Linked DNA regions of Homo sapiens. The protein of the gene in region 1 interacts with the protein of each later gene in a pairwise test. Each region holds a gene or a part of one and is shown on either strand. Other genes may lie near its edges.

Region 1 (4,474 bases):
TTCAGAAAGGAAAGTGACACTCCATATCCAAGTCTCTCAAGCTGAATCCATCCAAATGTTACTCTGTTTGCCAAAATGGAAGGGGTGGGGGGCATATTTCACCACTGTATTTTTCCATTACATGTGGTTGCAAGTTCTTTTACATTCACACTTGGTCAGGGAAGGAGGAAGCTGTTGTTCCACTTCTCATAACTGGACTCAGTGAAAGCAAAACACTTCTTTTTGCCAAATTATGAAAACAAACTCATAAAATGTCTGTAAATTCATGACTGCTGGAAGCTGTGCTAGCATATTGTTTTTGGAAATTAGAGTAGCTAAAATGGTACCTGGATGGAATTTGTAGGCAATGCGCTCACAGGCAGTCTGACTGGCAGTTATTCACAAAGGTCCCTTTCACTCTGTGATGTGGAGAGAAGAGGGGCTCTTGCCAAGAATAATACTAAGAATTGTTCAGAAAAACAGGATTGGTAACCAGAAGAAGGTAAGAAAGAAATACTGCTTCATTTCCACACTTTAAAATTAGATACTATTCATACCTTTCTTGTCCCCAGAATCCTTTATAAAAAACATAAAACCTATACTTTCAGAAAGAAGTCCATTGAAACTAAAGACTTAAGGTGTATTTATGAAGATGAGGTATCAATCACAAAATTCAACGTGAGGCTATAATTAGATACTGCCATGCAAATTTTATAACTACCTAGGAGAGGTAGGAGAAATAGAACTAGTCACACCTTTATGGTTTGCATTAAAGGAATAAAGGTTTTAAAAAGCACTCTCTTCTAGTGACCTCTTAAAGAGATTTTAAGAGCGCCTAATTCAACTTACCACACAAAATAGCAATTTCCCCACAGAATCCTCCAGTTCTACCAGCCCCCAAACCATGAAAAATATGAGACAATCAAATCAGTACCAATATTTTAAAGGAGGCTCTGACCTAATCAGTAAACACTAAGCTGAAACAGCCTGCAAGATGAAGTTAGTCGGCAACAAAACATTTCCTAGGAATTCAAGACTCTGGAAGTGCCATACAATGATGTTATAAACAGAAATCTCACTCAGAAAGAGGAAACTGACCAACTGACCAAAGTATTTTAAAACAAGAACGAAGCACCTATTCTTTTTAAATTAGATCCAACAGATGCCTCAGCATAACACATTAAAGCCCTTCTCACAGTATCCAACACAGACGTTCACCATTTTAGGTTAAAAACAAGCTCAGCATTTATGTTTGCAAACTTTACTAGTCGTCCACTGTTGAGGGTCAGCCCACTGCTTCGTGATGATTTTCGAGACAATAATATCTGCATCATCCCACTGTCAACACTCCACCCCTCAAGAGTCTGCAGGGAGAGAAAGTGTCTGCCTCTTAAGCACCAATTGTTCATAAAGGCTTGTTGACAGTCTATGGAAATAAAGCTTTAAATAACGAGGGTCAGCTACCTATGAGTCAGACCTTTCTTAGGCCCGGTCTGAGGTTCCACTTGAGATTCATAATAGAGGCTAGAAATCAAGAAAAAAAAACCCGTGAAATTACTCTGAGCCTTGACCAATTAATAAAGGCAACAAATTAAAAAGAACCCACCAACTTGTTTTGAAATATCAAAAAGTTAAATTTCAGTGACTCCAACATTCGATCCCATAGAATTACTCCCTCAAGGTGAAGATTCAGAGAGCAATCTTACATTCGGAGATGTCATGCTAAGTCCCAGTATCACACAAAACAAAACCGAATAAAATCAGCAACCACAAACGTGGGTGAAAGCAGCTTGCTGAGAAAGAAGAACTTGCTGAGAAACCAGAAGAAACACTGATTAGTTTCCAGTTGGCCATATCATCTTAACATCCTCATTTCACAGATGGGGAACGGAGGCTAAAGAATACACCAAAAAGCGAAGAGAAACGTTATTTTGTCATCCAAAAAGGAAAACAAAAGCTAAAAGCACCCTAAATAGAAATGCAGCATTCTGTGTGGTTCTACAACATAGGACATTAGTGGCCAGGTTTCAGCACGATCAAAACTTTTCTAATAGGCCGGGCGCGGTGGCTCATGCCTGTAATCCCAGCACTTTGGGAGGCAGAGGTGGGCGGATCACTTGAGGTCAGGAGTTCGAGACCAGCCCGGCCAAGATGGTGAAACCTCGTCTCTAGTAAAAATACAAAAATTAGCCGGGTTTGATGGCGGGTGTCTGTAATCCCAGCTACTTGGGAGGCTGAGGTGGGAGAATCGCTTGAACCCAGGAGGCAGAGGCTGCAGTGAGCCAAGATCGCGCCACTGCACTCCAGCCTGGGCGACAGAGTGAGACTCTGTCTCAGAAAAAAAGAAAAAAAAGCTTTTCTAATAAAACAAACCAACACGCAGGCAGTCTCCTGAGGCGCTGGGTGTCTAGAGACTAGTTGTGGGCAGTGTGGACAGAGACACAAGATGTGGTCCCTGTCCTCATGGGATGGGGGCAGTTTCTCACCCCCAATCACAAGGCAATGTGTACAGGGGCGGGTGGGAGTGTCACACCCTACAACCTAAACCGGACAGAAAACCAAGGCAGAGCTCGGGGCGCGGCCACCAGCCCCGTCGCGAGGTAGGGACCGCCACCCCAACACCCCAGTCCGGGTCTGGGGCCCCGACCCACCCAGCAAAGGCTCCTTCCGCCTGGACCTCGGGGCCCCCAGCCCTACCCGGCCCTAAAGCGCATTCCCCGGCCGGTGGGGCCGGGGCCGACAGCCCAGTCGCCCACCCTCCCACTCGCAGCTCAGTCCGGGGATTTCCTCCTGCGCCGCCCCCTTGTCAGGGAGGATGGGCTGAAGGGGCGCGGGGCAGAAAAGGACGCCGCGGCCACTGCCCCGTGTAGTGCCAGACCTCTTCGCGGAGCCCTGCAGAAGAAGAGGAGGAGAAGGGGCAGAGCTACCGTCCAGAAACTCCAGGGAGTCCCCGCAGGCTTCCCAGGCCCGGGCAGGGGACGCAGGGCGGGAGCGCGGCGAGAGGGGGCCGACGGCCCCGGGCTCACTCACCTCGGACAGGCCGCTCCGGTCCTCCGTGTCCTGCCCGCTCAGCACCTTCTTCAGCTTGTCCATTGCGGCCCAGTCCCCACCAGCTCCAGCTCCTCAGCGGCAGCCTGTTGCGCTCGCTAAGTTGACGGCTCTTCCGGGTGCTAGGCAGCCGCCCAGCCGCCCAGGCGCCAACCGCGGCGCGCCCCGCCCAGGCACCTGCCCACCGGGGGGCTCCCGGCATGCCCCGCGCGCCCGCGCTCGCCTCCGCTTGTTTTGGTCCCGGGGGGCGCGGCGGGCCGGAGGGGCTGGGATTGAAGACCACCAGGCGCTGCCAAACACTAATTCGGCGTCCAGAGCAGTTTCAAACCGGAACGGGCCGCGCTCCCTCGCCCTACTTGATCCAGTCAACGAATGCCGAGCACCTACCACGTGCAAGGCTCCGGAGACACAAAGACGGGGGAGAAGCCTTGTGCAGACGGGAACAAAGGCTGTGGTTCATCCATATTGCGATCGTGCCTACACAGGAAAAGATTTTCTTTTTAATCACTCAAGGCCTTAGTCTGGTGTGGTGGGGCGTGCCTGGAAGCCCAGCTACTCCGGAGGCTGAGGCAGGAGGCTCACTTGAGCCAAGGAGTTCCAGGCTGTAATGAGCTATGACCAGGATACTGCACTCCAGCATGGGCAACAGAGCGAGACTCTGTCTCAAAAAAAAAAAAAAAAAAAGTGACTGAAGGAATGTTGAAAGGAATAATAGATTGTTAAATTGTTTTGTGTTTGTACAATTGTTTTTTTTTCTGACCTTAAAAAAACTAAAAGTAGACTGGGCATGGTGGCTCATGTCTGTATTCCCAGCACTTTGGGAAGATGGCTTGAGCCCGGGAGTTCCAGACCAGCCTGGGCAACATAGGGAGACCTCATCTCTTCAAAACATTCTTAAAAATTAGCCAGGCATGCTGGCGGGCATCTGTAATCCAAGCTACTTGCGAGGCTGAGGAGGAAGAATGGCTTGGACTCAGGAGGTCAAGGCTGCAGTAAGCCATGATTGTCAGTACAGTAAGCCACTGCACTCTAGCTTGGGCAACAGAGTGGAAACAATACAAATGGCCACCAACTGATTAATGGTAAATAAAATGTGACATACCCATGCAATAAAAAAGAATGGAGTACTGACACATGCTACAACGTGGATGAACCTCGAAAACATTGTATTAAGTGAAAGAAGTGTGGAGCCCGAAAATTTGAGACAGGTCTCAGTTAACCAGGAAGTTTATTTTGCCAAGGTTGAGGAACAGCACCTGTGACACAGACTCAGGAAGTCCTGACGACATGTGCCCAAGGTCGTTGGGGCATAGCTTGGTGTTATACATTTTAGGGAGACATGAGGCATCCGTCAATATGTGTAAGAAGTACATTGGTTGTGTTTGGAAAGGCGGGACAACTCGAAGCAAAGGCAGGAAGACTCAAGGGGGGAGGGGGCTTCCAAGTC
Region 2 (3,876 bases), on another chromosome or scaffold:
ATCAGTATTCATCAAGACTGGAGACAAAATTGGTTTAATGTACTTAACAATTTTATGTACGTATCTTCATTTCCCTATTAGAAGACTTATGGACTGATGAAAAATCACCTGTCTTGGTTGTCATGTTGGTTTTATTTATTCATTAAATATGTATTGAGCATCTACTATATGTTGGTACTGGGGACAGGGGTGAAAAGCCCTGCCTTTGTGGGGCTGGCATTTTAGTGAGGGTGAGAAGGCAGACAGCAGCCATGTAAACAAATGACTAAGGAGGAAATAAAACCTAGAAGGTGACTGAGAGAAAATGAGAGACTACTCAGATGTATTGGCTATGAAAAATTTTCTTCTGATAACTATTGCCAAAGAATCTCTTCAGTTGGAGGGCTGACTTCTTGCTTGCCGTAGGGAAGGGAACAGGGATAAGTGTTTGACTGACTGACTTCTGGGAGTATGCATAGAAAAACCCTTGGGTGGGGCAACATATTACTATTTTTAGGATAAAGGTTTAAAAATACCACTCTCACTTACAGATGTAAATTTTCAAGTCTTTAAAAAATGAGCTATTATGAGAACTGTAATCTAGGAGGATAAAGAACCTGAGATTTGCAACAGATTTCATTTGAAATCTTCCTCGTGCTCTCTTCTCCTCTCTAATATGGGATGCAATAGAGTGAATATTTTACGCAGAGACTCATTTCTGTATTCATTGTTACGTAGCCAAGAAGTATCACTTTTTGGTGTAGTTTATTTAAAGATATCTAGTGCAGTTTGCAAACTAAGCAGACTTATTTGTTGTTATTTTATGTGAATTGTGGCAAATGTAGAGGTCCAGATAGAGGAGAAATAAGAGATTGTATCTTTCCTTCTAGTTAAAGGTTACGATGCCAAAATGGTGACAGTTACTTTATTTTAAAGAACTAATATAATAGTGAATATTAACTATAGTGTTGCTGGGAGTAGTTAACTATTTCAAGCTTATTTTCAACCAATTCATATCATTTTTAATGATATTTTTCAAGTAAATTCAGTAAATAATTCTCAGTTTGTAAATACTTTGTTTCTTATATGCTTTCTGTTTCTTCTTTCCCCATACTTTAAAATTATAATTTTGTTTTTCAAATGCAAAAGCCAAAACAAACAAAAATCTCATGACATATACCAGGTGCAGGTATAAAATGCAAAGGGATCCTTCAACTCTAAAACACCTAAGCCTGTCTGTGAATGAATCTGACAGGGCCCTAACACATGAAAGCTTATAAATAGATTTTAGTTATGTACTGCCTTAATTGTTATTTGCACATAGGATGCTTATCATAGAAAATACTTGACATAAAAAATTAAGTTTGGTTTACTGTTACAGTAGGATTCTTGTAAAACATTTTAAAACATACAGAGGTCACCTCTCACTGGATCCTTAATCTCAGTATGTAATGTAATCTTTCTGTACCATCTGGTGCCTTAATTAGAGCCCAGGAAAAGAAAAGACTTATTCATGTAAGCAGGATTATATTTATGACCTGGGAAATATTTGTTTGTTCATTCCAATTTTTTATTTTAAAGATTTAATACCTAATACAAACTGCTGTGATTGGATATTTATGTTGTTGCACATATTGGTGCAGTCGGAGAGGTGAGGGAGAGAGGGAGGTGAGGGGAGAGGGTGGGCAGACAGGCAGACACTTGTAGAGACCAGTTGCTACATGAACTTACTTGCAAGTTTTTCTGAGGTAGTATAATGTAGGCTAAGCATGAACAACTAAAATCATTTTACAAAGTAAACATCTTAGTTCCTCTACCAAGTTGAAAAGCACAGCAGTCTGAATGTGCTTCCAGCTCTGTATTCAGCAGTTTGACACTATGTAACATCTACCTATGGAATAGACAGAAAATGTTCTCTAACTTATTGGCACTGTATAGATAGAGCTTTGGACTCTTTCTTTTCTATTTTTCCCCATGGAGAGATGCTTAGGTTTTTCAAACCTACTTAGCCATTAATGATTCCATGCCTTGTACATTTTGTGCAATATACAAATGTTTATTTTGGACTTACTTACAATGAGTATAAACCCATACAATAGTGTCATTTTGGTGTTTATAACACGCTTTCCCTTTTTACAGATAGCTGCTGCTCTGTGGTGGTACTTTGTATCTAAAGGAGTTGAGTATTTGGACACAGTGTTTTTTATTCTGAGAAAGAAAAACAACCAAGTTTCTTTCCTTCATGTGTATCATCACTGTACGATGTTTACCTTGTGGTGGATTGGAATTAAGTGGGTTGCAGGAGGACAAGGTGAGCATTTTCAGGAATATACTGCTTGCGTTTAATTGCATATATGTGTTCAGTGGAAAGCAATGAGAACCTAGGACTTTGACTTGATCTACCATTTAACTTGCTTTCATGGTTAATCATTTCCATGTTCATTTCTTTTTTTTTTTTTTTTTTTTTTTTTTTTTTGAGATGGAGTCTCGCTCTGTCACCAGGCTGGAGTGCAGTGGCGCGATCTCGGCTCACTGCAACCTCCACCTCCCGGGTTCCAGCGATTCTCCTGCCTCAGCCTCCTGAGTAGCTGGGACTACAGGCACACACCACCACGCCTAGCTAATTTTTTGTATTTTTAGTAGAGACAGGGTTTCACCATGTTGGCCAGGATGGTCTCGATCTCTTGACCTTGTGATCCGCCTGCCTCGGCCTTCCAAAGTGTTGGGATTACAAGCATGAGCCACCACACCCAGCCATCATTTCATTTTTTAAAAAATTTGAGGCAAGTATAACTTTTGCTTTTTATCTGTGACTACTTTAATACCTAAAGATTTGCCCCAGAGATGAGCATAAACCAAGACTAAAGGTAGAAAACAATATTTTGATGGGGAACGGGTCTAGTAGTTCTGATCCAAAGAATACCAAGACACAGCCCCTCAAATCTGAAGATTTCCATCTTAGCCCATAGCTCACTCCTGCCCTAATACAGATTGAACATCCCTAATCTAAACATCTGAAATCCAAATGCTCCAAAATTCAAAACTTTTTGAGCACCAGCATGATACCACAGGTGGAAAATTACACACCTGACCTCATGTGATGGGTCACAGTCAAAACACAAGTGCAGAACACACTTTATTCAGTATACCTAAGGGAAAAAAGACCCTCTTAGCCCTTTTCCATGTACAGCATAATGTTGATGCCAAACAACCACAGATAATGTCCACACGGGTGACATCTTTGCTTTCTGATGTTCAGAGTACACAAACTTTGTTTAATGCATAAAATTATTTTAAAATTTTATAAAATTACCTTCAGGATACATGTATAAGGTGTATATGAAGTTTTGGATTTAGACCTGAGTCCTATCCCCAAGACACATCATTATGTCTATGCAAATATTCCAAAGTTTAAAAAAATCTGAAATCAGAAACACATCTGGTCCTGAGCATTTTGGATAAGGAATACTCAGCCTGTATAGGTCTTGTTGGTTCTTATTCAAAGGAAATTTTATATAGCCTTGTTAATGTTAAAGAGGATCTAAATTCATAGCTTGGCCAAGATCTGCCTCCTGTCTTTTCAGATGCCTGTAGATTAAGGATGATTCACATTGTTGAGCTTGATGCAGATTATTCCTCTGAGGAGGATCCAGGGTACAAGTCATTATAGTATAGTTCACCTTGCTGCTTTCCATTGTCATATTATGATAATTGGCAGCTTAGGAATTCATACATATATTATTGGGGGCCCAGTTTAAAACAATACAGTTAAAGGCAACTTCTGTAATTTTAAAAGAAAATTAGTAAATCTGAACTGACTTAGATCACTTTATGACAAAAATTAATTATTATTACATCTATACCTTGATTAAATTAATATTCTGAAAAGAAAGAATG

The links. Proteins that work in one complex are often made in the same cells at the same time.
Region 2: the proteins of SFT2D2 (region 1) and ELOVL4 interact in binary tests that used the Homo sapiens proteins (3 or more experiments, as listed by UniProt).

Annotation. Positions count from the first base shown.
Region 1 is NC_000001.11:168,224,678-168,229,151, reverse strand, and holds the start of SFT2D2 (vesicle transport protein SFT2B), read right to left. Parts: upstream 3,149-4,474; 5' UTR 3,073-3,148; coding exon 3,010-3,072; intron 1-3,009. UniProt on the Homo sapiens protein: May be involved in fusion of retrograde transport vesicles derived from an endocytic compartment with the Golgi complex.
Region 2 is NC_000006.12:79,920,039-79,923,914, reverse strand, and holds part of ELOVL4 (very long chain fatty acid elongase 4), read left to right. Parts: intron 1-2,118; coding exon 2,119-2,290; intron 2,291-3,876. UniProt on the Homo sapiens protein: Catalyzes the first and rate-limiting reaction of the four reactions that constitute the long-chain fatty acids elongation cycle.